Homo sapiens: one gene and its partner. The protein of the gene in region 1 interacts with the protein of each later gene in a pairwise test. Each region holds a gene or a part of one and is shown in the gene's direction. Other genes may lie near its edges.

Region 1 (7,033 bases):
CAGGAGAATCGCTTGAACCAGGGAGGTGGAGGTTGCAGTGAGCCAAGATCGTGCCACTGCACTCCAGCCTGGGCGACGGAGGAAGACTCTGTCTCAAAAACAAAAAACAAAAAAACTCCCCAAAAAACAGAATAAAACTTATCTCCATGCTGCTCCAAATCTGTGCTGTCAGAACATGTCAGAATGAGAGGACCTTGGGGGTTACACAGGCCAGCCCCTTCTTTTATGGTTAAGCGTCTGTGTCCCCTAGAAGCTGGCTCTTTTGAAATCTTATAGCAGTTTATGCATTTTCTTATGATGCCTGCTAGTTTCTACCCCATTTCATCTCCATGTGTACACATGTGACTCTAAGCTTTCTGAGGCCAGAATCTCTACTGGGTTTGTCTTTGCATCGTCCACAGTGTCTGAATCAGCGCCCTGCACAAAATGTAAACTCTTCAAATATTGGTTGACTTGCCTGGGCATCTCATCGCACCAAGACTCCTGCCCCTGCCCCTGTCTTTTCATCAGACCATGCTTCTTGTAGACTCCTCATCCAGGGTGCAATATAGTGTAAACCCAGCAGTGTCTTGTTCACAGGGCTCACATGACAGGGCAGCCCTTCCTTGATGGATCTGCTCTCTCCATCCTTGCCTGTGGGGAACAGCTGCTGCTGGTGCTGACCAAGTAGTCACTTGACACTCAGCAAATATGAAGTGTAGCTCTTTATTATTATTTTTTTTTTTAGATGGAGTTTTGCTCTTGTTGCCCAGGCTGGAGTGCAATAGCACAATCTTGGCTCACTGCAACCCTCTGCCTCCTGGGTTCAAACGATTCTCCTGCCTCAGCCTCCCAAGTAACTGGGATTACAGGCGTGTGCCACCACGTCTGGCTAATTTTTGTATTTTTAGTAGAGATGGGGTTTCACCATGTTGGTCAGGCTGGTCTCGAACTCCTGACCTCAGGCGATCCACCCACCTCGGCCTCCTAAAGTGTTGGGATTACAGGCGTGAGCCACCGTGCCTGGCCTGAAGTGTAGCTCTTAATTAGACCATGGACTTTGTACCAAGACCATCAGGTTTGGATCTTGGTTCTGCCTTCAGGAGCTGCATGATCTTCAGCAGGTAACTTAATCTCTCTGTGTCTCAGTTTCCCCATATGCACAATAGTAATACTTTCCTCATGGAGTTGTTGGGAGGATTAAATTAAGTAATACCTAGTAGATACTCAGAAGACCACCTAGCACTTGGTATATGCTAAATTGAAGTAACCATTATTTCGCCTTTTTTTATCTGCTTCTTAGCTCCCACCAGCATTTAAGCTCTTTGAGAGCAGAGATTTTTGTCTCTTTTTGTCTACTCTTATAATATAGTACCTAAACTTTGTAGTACTCTGAAAATATTTGTTGAATTGAATGACTGATTGAGCACCTATGTGCTAGGCACTGTTGCGGATGCTATGGACGTAGCCAAGAACACGGTCTTTAAGAGGCATGCTCTTATGAAGTTTATCTTCTAGTGGGAGAGACAGATAGTAAACAAATAAACGAGTCAACAAAAGAATGTAGGGTGGTGAGGCCGGGCGCGGTGGTTCACGCTTGTAATCCCAGCACTTTGGGAGGCCGAGGCGGGTGGATCACCAGGTCAGGAGATCGAGACCATCCTGGGTAACATGGTGAAACCCCGTCTCTACTAAAAATACAAAAAAAAAAAAAATTAGCCGGGCATGGGGGCGGGCGCCTGTAGTCCCAGCTACTCAGGAGGCTGAGGCAGGAGAATGGCGTGAACCCGGGAGGCGGAGCTTGCAGTGAGCCAAGATCGTGCCACTGCCCTCCAGCCTGGGCGACTAAGCAAGACTCTGTCTCAAAAAAAAAAAGAATGTAGGGTGGTGAAAGAGATACGGGGGAAAATAAAACAGAAGATAGAAAGTGGATGGGACGAGGGTTAGGGTCATAACTTTAGCTCTGAGAAGGTGGCTTTTGGGAGACATGGATGGTGATCTAGGGGGACAGCTTTGTGGACAGAGAGGACTGCAAGAATGATCAACCCAGAGGGGCTGGAGTGTGGTTAGTGATGAATCAGCAGGGGCCAAATTTGTGGCTGTGGTTAGGAGTTTGGATTTTACTTTTGAATTCTGAACAGTGGGAAGTCACTGCATGGGAACTTTTCCTGGGGTCTAGGAGAATATTTGAGTCCACACTAAAAGACAGAACAGGACATTACGAAGAGCGGCTGGAATAGGCTCTCCTTGTCCTGGGAGGTTTTTGAGGCCAGCCAGAGTATTGAGTTTCTTCCCATCAGGTTCCTTATTTCTCTGGCCTGGTCCCCTGAAGATGAGGGAAGCATCAGCTAGGTTGATGACAGTCCTGGTATGTGTGTCTGTGTGTCCTGCATTTTATTGAGCTTCCTTTTTTCCGAGTCCCTAAGTCATCAGCAAACATTTCTTGAGTTGAATGAATGAATGTTGCCAGTGCTTAGCAGCTTGTCGTCTACAGTGGAATGTCTGTGTTCTCTGCTCCTCTCTGTGTGAGTTAAAGCTTCTTATCTTGGCAGTGACTCTTAAGTAGTCTTGGAGTTTTGCAGCCATTCTTCATAAATGCATCAGCGACACACATACATGTATATCACTGTTTCTTTGTTGAGAGTATACCAAGATTGACTGGACAGCTTTCCTACCCCCACCCTATCCCTACTTCTCTGCCAGTCCCTGCCATCACCAGGCCCCTCTATAGAGGGTTGGGCCACACTGGCAACTCTGACCATCTCCTGTTTGATTACTTGATCAGGAACACAGTGGTATCTAGAAAGCATTGGTTGTCTTTCATCTGGGCTGAGCGGAGTTGGGTAACTCAGCAGAGCGCTGAGAGAAATGGCATTTCAAACCCAGGGGCTCCACTCACCAGGAATCCAGAGTGGGACTCTTTAGACTGGGTGCCATTGGCCAGCTTTTCAGATCCCTTTTTGGTCCTCCCATCAGTTGTCCACGATGCCACTTGCTCTGCTAACCTGGAGAGACCAACACAAGTTAGTGGGAATCAAATAGGACGCTTGTGTTGCAGGTCACTTTCAGAGTCCTGGGGCATTTTATTGGCAGAATCTGAAATGCCTGCTAGTCATATGTCATCTGTAGATTTGTAAAAACTAAACGCAGAGTGGGTGCAAGCTTTTTCTCATGTAGCTGGTTTTCTTACTATGAGAATGATACGTGCTCATTTAGAAAATGAGAAAGTGAATGATAGTGGCATTTTACATACACTGTCTCATTTCATCCTCACGGTTTCTGAGATACGTACCATTATTACCATTTTGTATGTTAAGAAGCTGAGGCCTAGAAAAGTTAAGTAAAGTGTTTGAGGTCGAGCTAGTTGGGAACAGAATCAGATTCAAACCAGGCAGTATGACTCCCAGGCAGAGCTCTGAGCACCATGTCATATACTGATTCTCAGCAGAAACCATAGAGAAGAAAGAAAAGCCTCCCTTAAGCCCAATGTAGGTGATACTCTTAGGGTAGTCAGAGTTAACTTGCTGGCTGCTCCAAAGGGTTTGAATCCTAGGCCCTTTCCCTGTCTTGTCTGACCCTGGGCAAGCTAAGTAGCCTCCCTTTGCTTTACTTTCCCTGACTGTAAATGGGGATAATGATACTTGTACCTTCGTAGTTCCCAGGGGCATGGTGGTGTTTGAGCCAAAGTGCTTTTGAACTTCTTTTATGAAAGGGAACTGAGCACCAACTACTGTTATACTCAGTTATTAAAGACCTATTATGCTCTGGTCTTCCATGAAGCCTTGTTAAAAAGGGAAAGACAACAGTCCCCAGAGGGAAGGGTGTCCTTCTGTGGGGGAATAGCTGGACAAAAACATTGTTCTCCCCTTTTGAAGTTTCTTAAGGATTGAGGGTCATACCTGTGGCTCCATTTTTCATGGTTGTGTTGTAGTGTAGAAACTTCTGTAAACAGGTATGTGTTCTGTGCATCATAACATGATTGAGGACCCCCAATGGCAGGGCCAAGAGGGAGTTAAAGGGCTTGGTTTCTAATCTTGGTTCTGATGTTTTTTATAAGCCAGGATCACAGAGACACCAAGAAGTGGTGGTTGTCTTCCATTACTCCTCCCTCCCTCCCCTCCTTCCTTCTAATGACTCATTGATTCAATTAACAAATATTTATTAAGGCTTTATTACAATCTGGACACCATCATAGGTACTAGGAATATCGTGGCAAGCAGGACAAAAATAGTTATTCCCCAGCCGGGCGTGGTGGCTCACGCCTGTAATCCCAGCACTTTGGGAGGCCAAGGCAGGCGGATCACGAGGTCAGGAGATTGAGACCATCTTGGCTAACATGGTGAAACCCCGTCTTTACTAAAAATACAAAAAATTAGCCTGGCGTGGTGGTACGCACCTGTAGTCCCAGCTACTCGGGAGGCTGAGGCAGGAGAATTGCTTGAACGCTGGAGGCGGAGGTTGCAGTGAGCTGAGATTGCACCATTGCACTCCAGCCTGGGCAATAGAGTGAGACTCTGTCTCAAAAAAAAAGAAAAAAAAAAAAGTTCTTCCCCATACCAAGCTCTTAGTCTAGGACCAAAAGGCTTATTATATAGTTGGGATCGTGTGAATGAAGAAAGAATGATTTGATGAGAGTGCTTTGAACTCTTAGGAGGAGAGTCAGGACATGATCTCCAGATGCACACTGGCCCCAGTGGCTACCTGCCCTGAGTGGACATTAAGGTGGGGGGCTGGGTTGGCTTTCCAGAAGAGCAAGGGAAGAGTGAAACAATTAGAGCCCTTCCGTGTCCTGTAACAAAAGCTGTACTTGGTATGGACATCTTGAGAAACAGTGCACACCTCAGGAGCCATGGTTAGCAAGAACTCCCTTCCCACTTAAAGCCTTAACCCTTTGACTGTTAACTTGAGTTTCAGTCAGGGAGAAATGCTCATATTGAGGATTTCTTTTCAAAGTTTTTGCTTGGGGCTGTGGATTTTGAAGTTCTGCCATTAACACGGTGCACTTCTTATGTAACAGGCGCCAGACCTTGTCTCTGCAGAGTTCTCTTCCTGCCCGACACGTCTCTCGCTGCCAACTTTGGAAAGCAGGCATATGGTGGCAGGCGGGCTCTCCACAGTGCTCATGGGGTTCCTGGGGGAACTGATGCACATGGACACCTATGTCCTCTGGCCCCCATTTTGGGTCAATATATACAGATTAGAGTGGGGGCAGGGTTCTTTCTTCCCCAAGCACCAGGCCTTCAGCTCTCTTCAAAGACCAAGGTCAGGGAGGTCTAGCAAGCAGTTCATGTGAAAGCACACAGTGTTCCTCTCTCCCTCCAGCCAGGGCTGGGTAGAGAGGGCAAAGGGCTGGCAGAGGCAGCCACTCACATTTGGAGTGAGAGGAGGGTGCCAGGACAGCGAGGCATATCCTTGTGCGATGTTATTTTCACCAGCCCTTGTCATGTCACTGTATGTGGCACTCCCGGTGCTAATCAGCTGGCCCTTCAAGCTGAGGGGCGGGGCAGCAGCATCCAGCATCTGATTAGGAAGGCAAGGCCTGCACAGCGAGGAGGCCAGGTCACTCAGTGCACCTGGACATCTTCAAGTGTGATTGGAGCCCGCAGTGACGCTGTTTCAGCTAGAAGATTGTGACCCACTTCCATATCCTCTCCCACATGGAGAGCTGGGGAGGAGGCTTTGAGAGCCAGCTCCAATTAAGGTGTTTTTTTCAGGCCCGAGTAGCACCCAAGTGTCTAACCCACATGTTTTCTGCTGCTGGAATCCTGTGGTCAATGTCCTTGACCTGAACCGAATAACCACCCCAGGGCAGATGAAGTTACCACCCCTGAAGTCCTAGATTCCACCAGCAAGGCTTCCTGCAAAGATCAGGATCCCTTGTGGATCAAACACCTCACATAATATGGGCCCCACCCCTGTTCTTCCTGATCAATCACCAAGCAAACCTTGGACCAGTTTCCAAGGAGATACTTAGCCTTGACCTCCCTGCCCAGACAGGCCTCACAGCCACCTGCCTCAGGCAGCCCTGGCTTCCCAGAGACCCATCCTGACCCTGACTTGCACCCTTGCCAAATATCCTAAATATCCTTCTGCTGCAGGAATATGAAATGAGACCTGTTTCTGAACTTCTAGGTTTCTGTTATTCTTTCCAGGTAGATGACATTTTAATGCTTCTCTGTAATTTTACATTTCTTTTTTGTGTGTTGGGGAGGGGCCTGGGGTATGATTTAAATACGTGAAGCTGTTAGTACTGGTAGCACTTAAGCTGGTGAAGTGGTGGGTCTGAGCCCCTGAATAATCCCATTTTACTTACCAAGAAGGGAGCAAAAGTACCTGCCAAGGTCAGCTCTGGCTAGGCCCTATGAGCCTGTTCCTGAGCGTGTGCTCACACTCGGCTTCTGGACTGAGGCAGAAGGTCCTTCTCCCTCCGTGTGTGTTAATACTGTTGGCACTGCCCACAGCCTCCAGGGGCACATAGCCTTCCTCTGGCCGATCGCTGGAGTTGCAGGAAGATGAGGTGCTGGTGATTTTTTGGAAGACATGGTGGGGCTTACAGGCAAGCAAGCTGGCCCCCAGTTCTGCTTTCCTGCACAGAGCAGTCTTCCAGAGTTTGTGGTGGGATGTAAGGGAGCTCGGGCAGCCGGAGCAGTGCAGAGACCTGGCTCCTTCCTCCCTCCTGAGGTCTGCTGCTGCTGGCACAAGGGGTCACGTGTGCCCGTTTGCCTTGTGTTTGCTTTGGGTGCTGGCTTCCCACTCTCACTTCCTAATCTCTAAAGAGGAGTGGCCTGTTAGGTCCATGAGTGGTGACAGTGGAGATTGAAGTGCTTAGCGTCAGGCACCGCACTGCACTGGCAAGAGCACTCAGATGAAGGGTGTTCTTTCATTCTCATCTGACCGCATTCCACTTCATTTAAAAACATCATTCGCCCAGGCTGGAGTGTGGTGACACGATCACAGCTCACCGTGATCACAGCCTCAACCTCCCAGGCTCAAGTGATCCTCCCATCTCGGCCTCCCAAGTAGTTGGGACCACAAGCACATGCCACCATGCTGT
Region 2 (7,033 bases), on another chromosome or scaffold:
TGAAGTAATATCTCACTGTGGTTCTGATTTGCATTTTCCTAATGACTATTGAGCATATTTTCTTGTGTTTATTGTCCATTTGCATATATTCTTTGGGAAAATGCCTATTCACATGTTATGCCCAATTTTTTAGTTGGGTTGTTTGGTGGTTTTTTTGTTTGTTATTGAGTTGTGGGAATTCTTTATATATTTTGAATACTAACCCCTTATCAGATATATGGTGTGCAAATATTTTCTTCCATTCTTGGGGTGTCATTTGACTCTGTTGTTAGTTTAGCATCCTTTGATGCACAAAAGTTTTTAATTTTGCTGTCCAATTTATCTATTTTGGTGGTGGTGGTGTTGCCTGTGCTTTTGGTGTCATATCCTAGAAATTATTGCCAAACCTATGTCATGAACCTTTCCCCATAGACTTTTATAGTTTTACTTCTTAAGTTTAGGTCTTTATACTTTAAACATTCAAACTCGAGTCATTCTATTTCATTAATTTGCAGAATGTTTCTGTCTATATTTCTGTGTTTATTCTCTCCTCTGTGCTTAGAATTTATTTTTTCCCTATTTCCAAGTATTCAAAGTATTCCCATCTTTCAAGGTCTATTCCAACTGCCACCTGCTTCATGAAGAAAGCCACTGAAGAGATTCTCGCCCACTGAAGAGATTTTCTTCTTCTGATCTCCCATTAGTGCTTTAGTTGCACTTTTCTGGTTGGATTTATATAGTACCTTATAGTCTACATCTAATCTCCCTGCAAGACATTTAGATATATATTTCTCATATTTGCTTCTATATATAGTGTTTCGCAAATGATTTCATCTGTTTATCAGTAAATATATATTACATGAATGGACATTTTAATTTTTCTCATATGGTCCTTTCTGTTTACTCAGCTCTTATGGAAGGCATGGCAGAAGATGAGACAGGGAAAGAGGACAGCACAGAGTCACAGCCAGATCGTGACTGAGTGTAGGCTTACTTCTACCTCAAAACTTACCACTTTAGGAAATTTTTCTGACTTGCTTGACTACATAACTCTTAGTGCACGTTTTGTATTACATTTAATTTTTACTTCTTGGCTTATTGCTTATACATGTGATAATAGGTCTTTCAAAATAAATGTTTTATCTCTCTATATTAAACTGTCTAACTCTCCAATTGGATGGTCACTTTGGAGAATTAAAACTTCTATTGCTTTTTCTTCTTTTAAATTGAGTTTTAAAATACATTAAAGCTATATTAATATTTTCTCCTTATTAAAAAAGTCAAACATTACAGGTAAGTATACAGTTCCATTTGATCAGCCCAGTTCCTATTTAACTGCCTTCTTAAACTATTCAGAGTTAATCACTGTTACCAGTTTTCTTTTTTTTTTGAGACAGAGTTTTGCTCTTGTTGCCCAGGCTGGAGTGCAATGGTGCGATCTCGGCTCACCGCAACCTCCGCCTCCTGGGTTCAAGCAGTTCTCCTGCCTCAGCCTCCCAAGTAGCTGGGATTATAGGCACCCACCACCACGTCCAGCTAATTTTTTGTATTTTTAGTACAGATGGGGTTTCACCATGTTGGCCAGGCTGGTCTTGAACTCCTGACCTCAGGTGATCCGCCCGCCTCAGCCTCCCAAAGTGCTGGGATTACAGGCGTGAGCCACCACGCCCAGCTGTTACCAGTTTTCTATGGGCCCTGCCAAATCTTTTTTGATGCATTTACTTATATATATATATGTGTGTGTATATATATATATAATGTATAGGACTTACTATGTGTAAATTATATTCATATAAAATTACTTCTTCTTGGCTGGGTGCGGTGGCTCAAGCCTGTAATCCTGGCATTTTGGGAGGCCAAGGTGGGTGGATCACCTGAGGTCAGGAGTTTGAGACCAGCCTGACCAACATGGTGAAACCCCATCTCTACTAAAAAATACAAAAATTAGCCGGGCCTGGTGGCGCCTGCCCGTAGTCCCAGCTACTCGGGAGGCTGAGGCAGGAGAATCGCTTGAACCTAGGAGGTGGAGTGAGCTGAGATTATGCTGCTGTACTCCAGCCTGGGCGGCAGAGCAAGACTCTGTCTCAAAAAACAACAACAACAACAAATTACTTCTTCCCTATTTTCCACAGCTGCCTATGGTGATCAATAACCAGTAAATACTGAATAAATCTTACTGATAACCTGGGTCTGAGAGACTGGAATGAGAAATGAAAGGTCAAGCATATGAAAATACTTCACAAGTGTCCAGCTTGTAAAATTCCATTCCATGTCTATTCTGCATATAATCTCCAGGTATCACTGGACAGGCCATGGCTCCACGGTCCCGGCGACGAAGGCACAAGAAACCTCCCTCATCAGTGGCTCCCATCATCATGGCCCCAACCACAATTGTGACCCCTGTGCCTCTGACCCCCTCAAAACCTGGCCCTAGCATTGACACACTTGGCTTCTTCTCCTTGGATGATAATGTTCCTGGCCTATCGCAGCTGATCCTTCAAAAGCTGAACATGAAAAGCTATGAAGAATATAAGTGAGTGACCAGCTCTATGGAAAAGGGATATATTGTCTCTGGTAGAAGTAAATTTCAGAAGGTGGAGAGGGAGTACAGTTTGGTGAATATGGAGTATTTGCAATAAGAGATTTTCTCATCCTTTTGCCAGTTACTATATTACTATAAAAGAAGAAACATTCACTTAAGTGAAAAATGATGGCAGTGGGAGACATAGGAGTAAGTGGAAATGTGTAGGAGACAAGATGGGGGGCATGAGAGATTTTGGAGATATTCCTTTCCCCATTGTCATTCCTTCTCCATGCTGTCTCTGCAGGTTGGTGGTAGATGGGGGTACCCCCGTATCAGGCTTTGGATTTCGATGTCCTCAAGAAATGTTCCAGAGGATGGAAGACACATTTCGATTCTGTGCTCACTGTAGAGCACTCCCTAGTGGGCTTTCAGACTCCAAGGTTCTCCGGCACTGTAAGAGGTGACTTGTTGGGGGCTAATAGGGAGACATTCAGAAATGATCCTGTATTAGCCGGGCATGATGACTCATGCCTGTAATTCCAGCACCTTGGGAGGCCGAGGCAGGTGGATCACATGAGGCCAACCTGGCCAACACAGCAAAACCCTGTCTCTACTAAAAATACAAAAATTAGCCTGGTGTGGTGGCACACACCTGTAGTCTCAGCTACTCGAGAGGCTGAGGTGGGAGAATTGCTTGAACCCAGGAGGCAGAGGTTGCAGTGAGCCAAGATTGCACACTGCACTCCAGCCTGGATGACAGAGCGAGACTCTGTCTCAAAAAAAAAAAAAAAAAAAAAAAAGCAATGACCTTCTACTACAACCTCATTCCAAGAGGAAAGATCTGAAAGTTTTCAAAATAACCTAAGACTTAGGTCCTCATTTTTTGTCACCCAGGCTACAGAGATTAGAACAGTGTTCTAATCCTGCTTATTTTTGGTGTTATTGGGAAGTGAGACAAGAAACCACAATACAATCCTCTCTGTCTCTCTCTTGAGTACTCAAGGAGTAAGACTACATTTGTTCTGGGGAGGTGGAGGTTGAACCATACCTGTTATGAGAGGACAGCTGCAAACTCGTGGTGTTTTTTCTAAAAGTGATATAAAAAGTGAGTTGTTCCAGATAGAGAGTAAGGTATCACTCTGTCTGGCAGAATAATTATATTCCCAATCCCTCCTGCCTTGTCTGCCAAATGTAGTCCCCAAAATTGGTGCATCAGCTCTCATTCCTCTCCCTACCTTCCTTACCCATTCACCATCCTAGGTGCAGGAATATCAGTTCCTTTCCTCCGATAACCCCAATCATATTTATAGTATAAGAACTATTTCTCTCTCATTCTCTCAGGTGCAGAAATGTCTATTACTGTGGTCCAGAGTGCCAGAAGTCAGACTGGCCCGCACACAGGAGGGTTTGTCAAGAGCTTCGTCTTGTGGCTGTGGACCGTCTCATGGAATGGCTTCTGGTCACAGGTGGAGTGGTGGTGTTGAGGATCTCTGCCATAATGGTCATAGTTGATTGCATTTAAAGGAAGATACAAAATCATATTGTTATGAAAAAATGAGGAAGTGGGGCAAAGGATGGGGCACGCCTGCTCACAGGTTGGCAGAGTGAACATGGAGGGAATATTGATCATTAGTGAGGGGGAAATTTTGAAGCCAGGAAAGCATTAGGTTACTTCTTATTTCTTCTTTCCTACAGGTGATTTTGTTCTACCCTCAGGACCTTGGCCATGGCCACCTGAAGCTGTACAGGACTGGGACTCCTGGTTTTCTATGAAGGGGTTACACCTAGATGCTACATTGGATGCTGTGCTAGTTAGTCATGCTGTGACCACCTTATGGGCCAGTGTAGGACGGCCAAGGCCAGACCCGGATGTCCTGCAGGGATCTTTGAAGCGGCTGCTGACAGATGTCCTGTCACGGCCCTTGACTCTAGGCCTAGGACTTAGGGCCTTGGGGATAGATGTTAGGAGGACTGGGGGAAGCACAGTGCATGTGGTTGGTGCTTCCCATGTGGAGACATTTCTTACTCGCCCAGGGGACTATGATGAGCTTGGTTACATGTTTCCTGGGCACCTTGGACTCCGTGTGGTCATGGTGGGTGTAGATGTAGCTACTGGCTTTTCACAGAGCACCTCAACTTCACCCCTGGAACCTGGCACAATTCAGCTTAGTGCCCACAGGGGCCTCTACCATGACTTCTGGGAGGAGCAAGTAGAGACCGGGCAGACACACCATCCAGATTTGGTGGCGGCATTCCATCCAGGTAAGAGTCATTGGTTCAGGGGAATAGAGGGTGGCTCCCCTGAGAATTTTCCATCCTGAATCTTCTGTCTTTGGAACCCCATTCATTTGGTCTCATTAAACACAATATGATGACAACTTTTCTTTTTTTTTTTTTCTTTTTTTTTTTTTGAGACGGAGTCTCGCTCTGTCGCCCAGGCTGGAGTGCAGTGGCGCGATCTCGGCTCACTGCAAGCTCCACCTCCCGGGTTCACGCCATTCTCCTGCCTCAGCCTCCCGAGTAGCTGGGACTACAGGCGCCTGGCTAATTTTTTGTATTTTTAGTAGAGGCGGGGTTTCACTGTGTTAGCCACGATGATCTCGATCTCCTGACCTTATGATCCGCCCGCCTCTGCCTCCCAAAGTGCTGGGATTACAGGCGTGAGCCACCGCGCCCAGCCTGATGACAACTTTTCTTGATAATTTGCCATATGTACTACACTTGGGTTCAGAATTTTTCATTGAAGAGTGGATGATGATGATGATGATAATGACTGGGGATAAGCAAGGTGAGGGGTGGGGTGCTCACAGTCAAAGAAATATCTTGCTCTTAGGGTCTGCTTTAGTCTTTCCCTATTCCCATTTTCATTTTTGTTCCACAGGTTTTCATTCCTCCCCAGACTTGATGGAGGCTTGGCTGCCCACCCTGCTGCTACTTCGTGACTATAAGATTCCTACATTGATTACTGTTTACAGGTTTTGACCTCATCCTATTTGTGATACTTCCCTGACTTTACATCTCTCTTTATATAGATGAGCTCATTTTTGCCCCCCTCTTGCTCATCTACCTTCTGGTGAGGATGTTCTTTTCCGCATATGGCTTTTTTATCCCCTTGGAACAGTCCTTTGCTAGTTAATGGAATATTTAATGAGACATTTGGGAGGGAAAGATAGCCCTTGCCTAGTCCAGCCTTAGGCAATTTGGGGGATGGGTGATTACAGAAATGTCAGGCTCTTGGGCAGTTTTTCCTTTATCTCTGTCACAATCAGTAGAGTAATTTTTCTTCTCTCTCTTCTACAGCCATCAGGAGTTGGTATCCTCTTTGCAGATTCTGGTGGAACTGGATACACACATCACTGCCTTTGGGTCTAATCCTTTCATGTCCCTCAAACCTGAACAGGTCTATTCCAGTCCCAACAAGCAGCCAGTATACTGCAGTGCATACTATATCATGTTTCTTGGAAGCTCCTGTCAGCTGGATAATAGGCAATTAGAAGAGAAAGTGGACGGCGGGATTTAAATAGATCATAACTGGACATCTGGAAAACGGGGAGTTTGTGATGAAATTACCCTGCTAATGCCAGGTTCTTGCAAACTTTGAAAAACATTATATTCTAAACCTCATTTACTGTTTGGGTAAAAATTCTAAGCTGAATGAGAGTTTCTGTATAACATAACTGGTTTCTTTCTTTTTTTGAGATGGAGTCTTGCTCTGTTGCCCAGGCTGGAGTGCAGCGGCATGATCTCGACTCACTGCAGCCTCCGCCTCCTGGGTTCAAGTGGTTCTCCTGCCTCAGCCTCCCTAGTAGCTGGGATTACAGGTGCACACCACCACACCTGGCTAATTTTTGTATTTTTAGCAGACAGGGTTTCACCATGTTGGCCAGGCTCGTATCAAACCCTTGACCCCAGGTGATCTGCCTGCCTCAGCCTCCCAAAGTTCTGGGATTACAGGCATGAGCCACCATGCCCAGCCAATGTAACTGGTTTCTAAGAGTTTAGCCACAGTAGCTTCTAGAGATAGGAAATTAGATTTAGTGGGTGGGAAGAGGCCCTGATGCTGGTCTTTCCAGAGCTTATAGTTGCTAACACTTTTCTTTGTAAAGAAGTTTACCTTTTGACTGGAACCAGATGGCACTGAGAAAAAGAATGAGAACCACCTTATTCTTCTGAAAAAGACTTTCTTCTCATCCAGTAATTTGGGCTAAAAAATGGAAAGATGTTGATGACTTGAAGTGATGCAAGAATGGACAAGTCAGGGAAGTCATTGGGAACATGGATGAGGTTGTAAGCATTGGTACAGTGTCCTGTTTCCTGACTTTTTTGAGAGAAATGTCTACTTTTCCTGTTTTCTCTTGGGGACTTTTGACCCTAGAGTAGCCCTGGTGTTATATTTTAGATATCCCAAGCTATATCAGACTTTACCTGAATATACTGGAGTTACTTATTATCCCCCATTCTATACCCCAATAAACTCAGTTTGGGGCTTCTTAAGTCACTTGTTTTATTTCCTATTCACTGGCAAGTATT

The links.
Region 2: the proteins of CTNNBIP1 (region 1) and MSS51 interact in binary tests that used the Homo sapiens proteins (3 or more experiments, as listed by UniProt).

Annotation. Positions count from the first base shown.
Region 1 is NC_000001.11:9,900,251-9,907,283, reverse strand, and holds part of CTNNBIP1 (beta-catenin-interacting protein 1), read left to right. Parts: intron 1-7,033. UniProt on the Homo sapiens protein: Prevents the interaction between CTNNB1 and TCF family members, and acts as a negative regulator of the Wnt signaling pathway.
Region 2 is NC_000010.11:73,423,543-73,430,575, reverse strand, and holds the end of MSS51 (putative protein MSS51 homolog, mitochondrial), read left to right. Parts: exon of another isoform or gene 1-2,274; 5' UTR 2,275-2,291; coding exon 2,292-2,512; intron 2,513-2,807; coding exon 2,808-2,963; intron 2,964-3,844; coding exon 3,845-3,969; intron 3,970-4,198; coding exon 4,199-4,765; intron 4,766-5,384; coding exon 5,385-5,478; intron 5,479-5,803; coding exon 5,804-6,023; 3' UTR 6,024-6,997; downstream 6,998-7,033.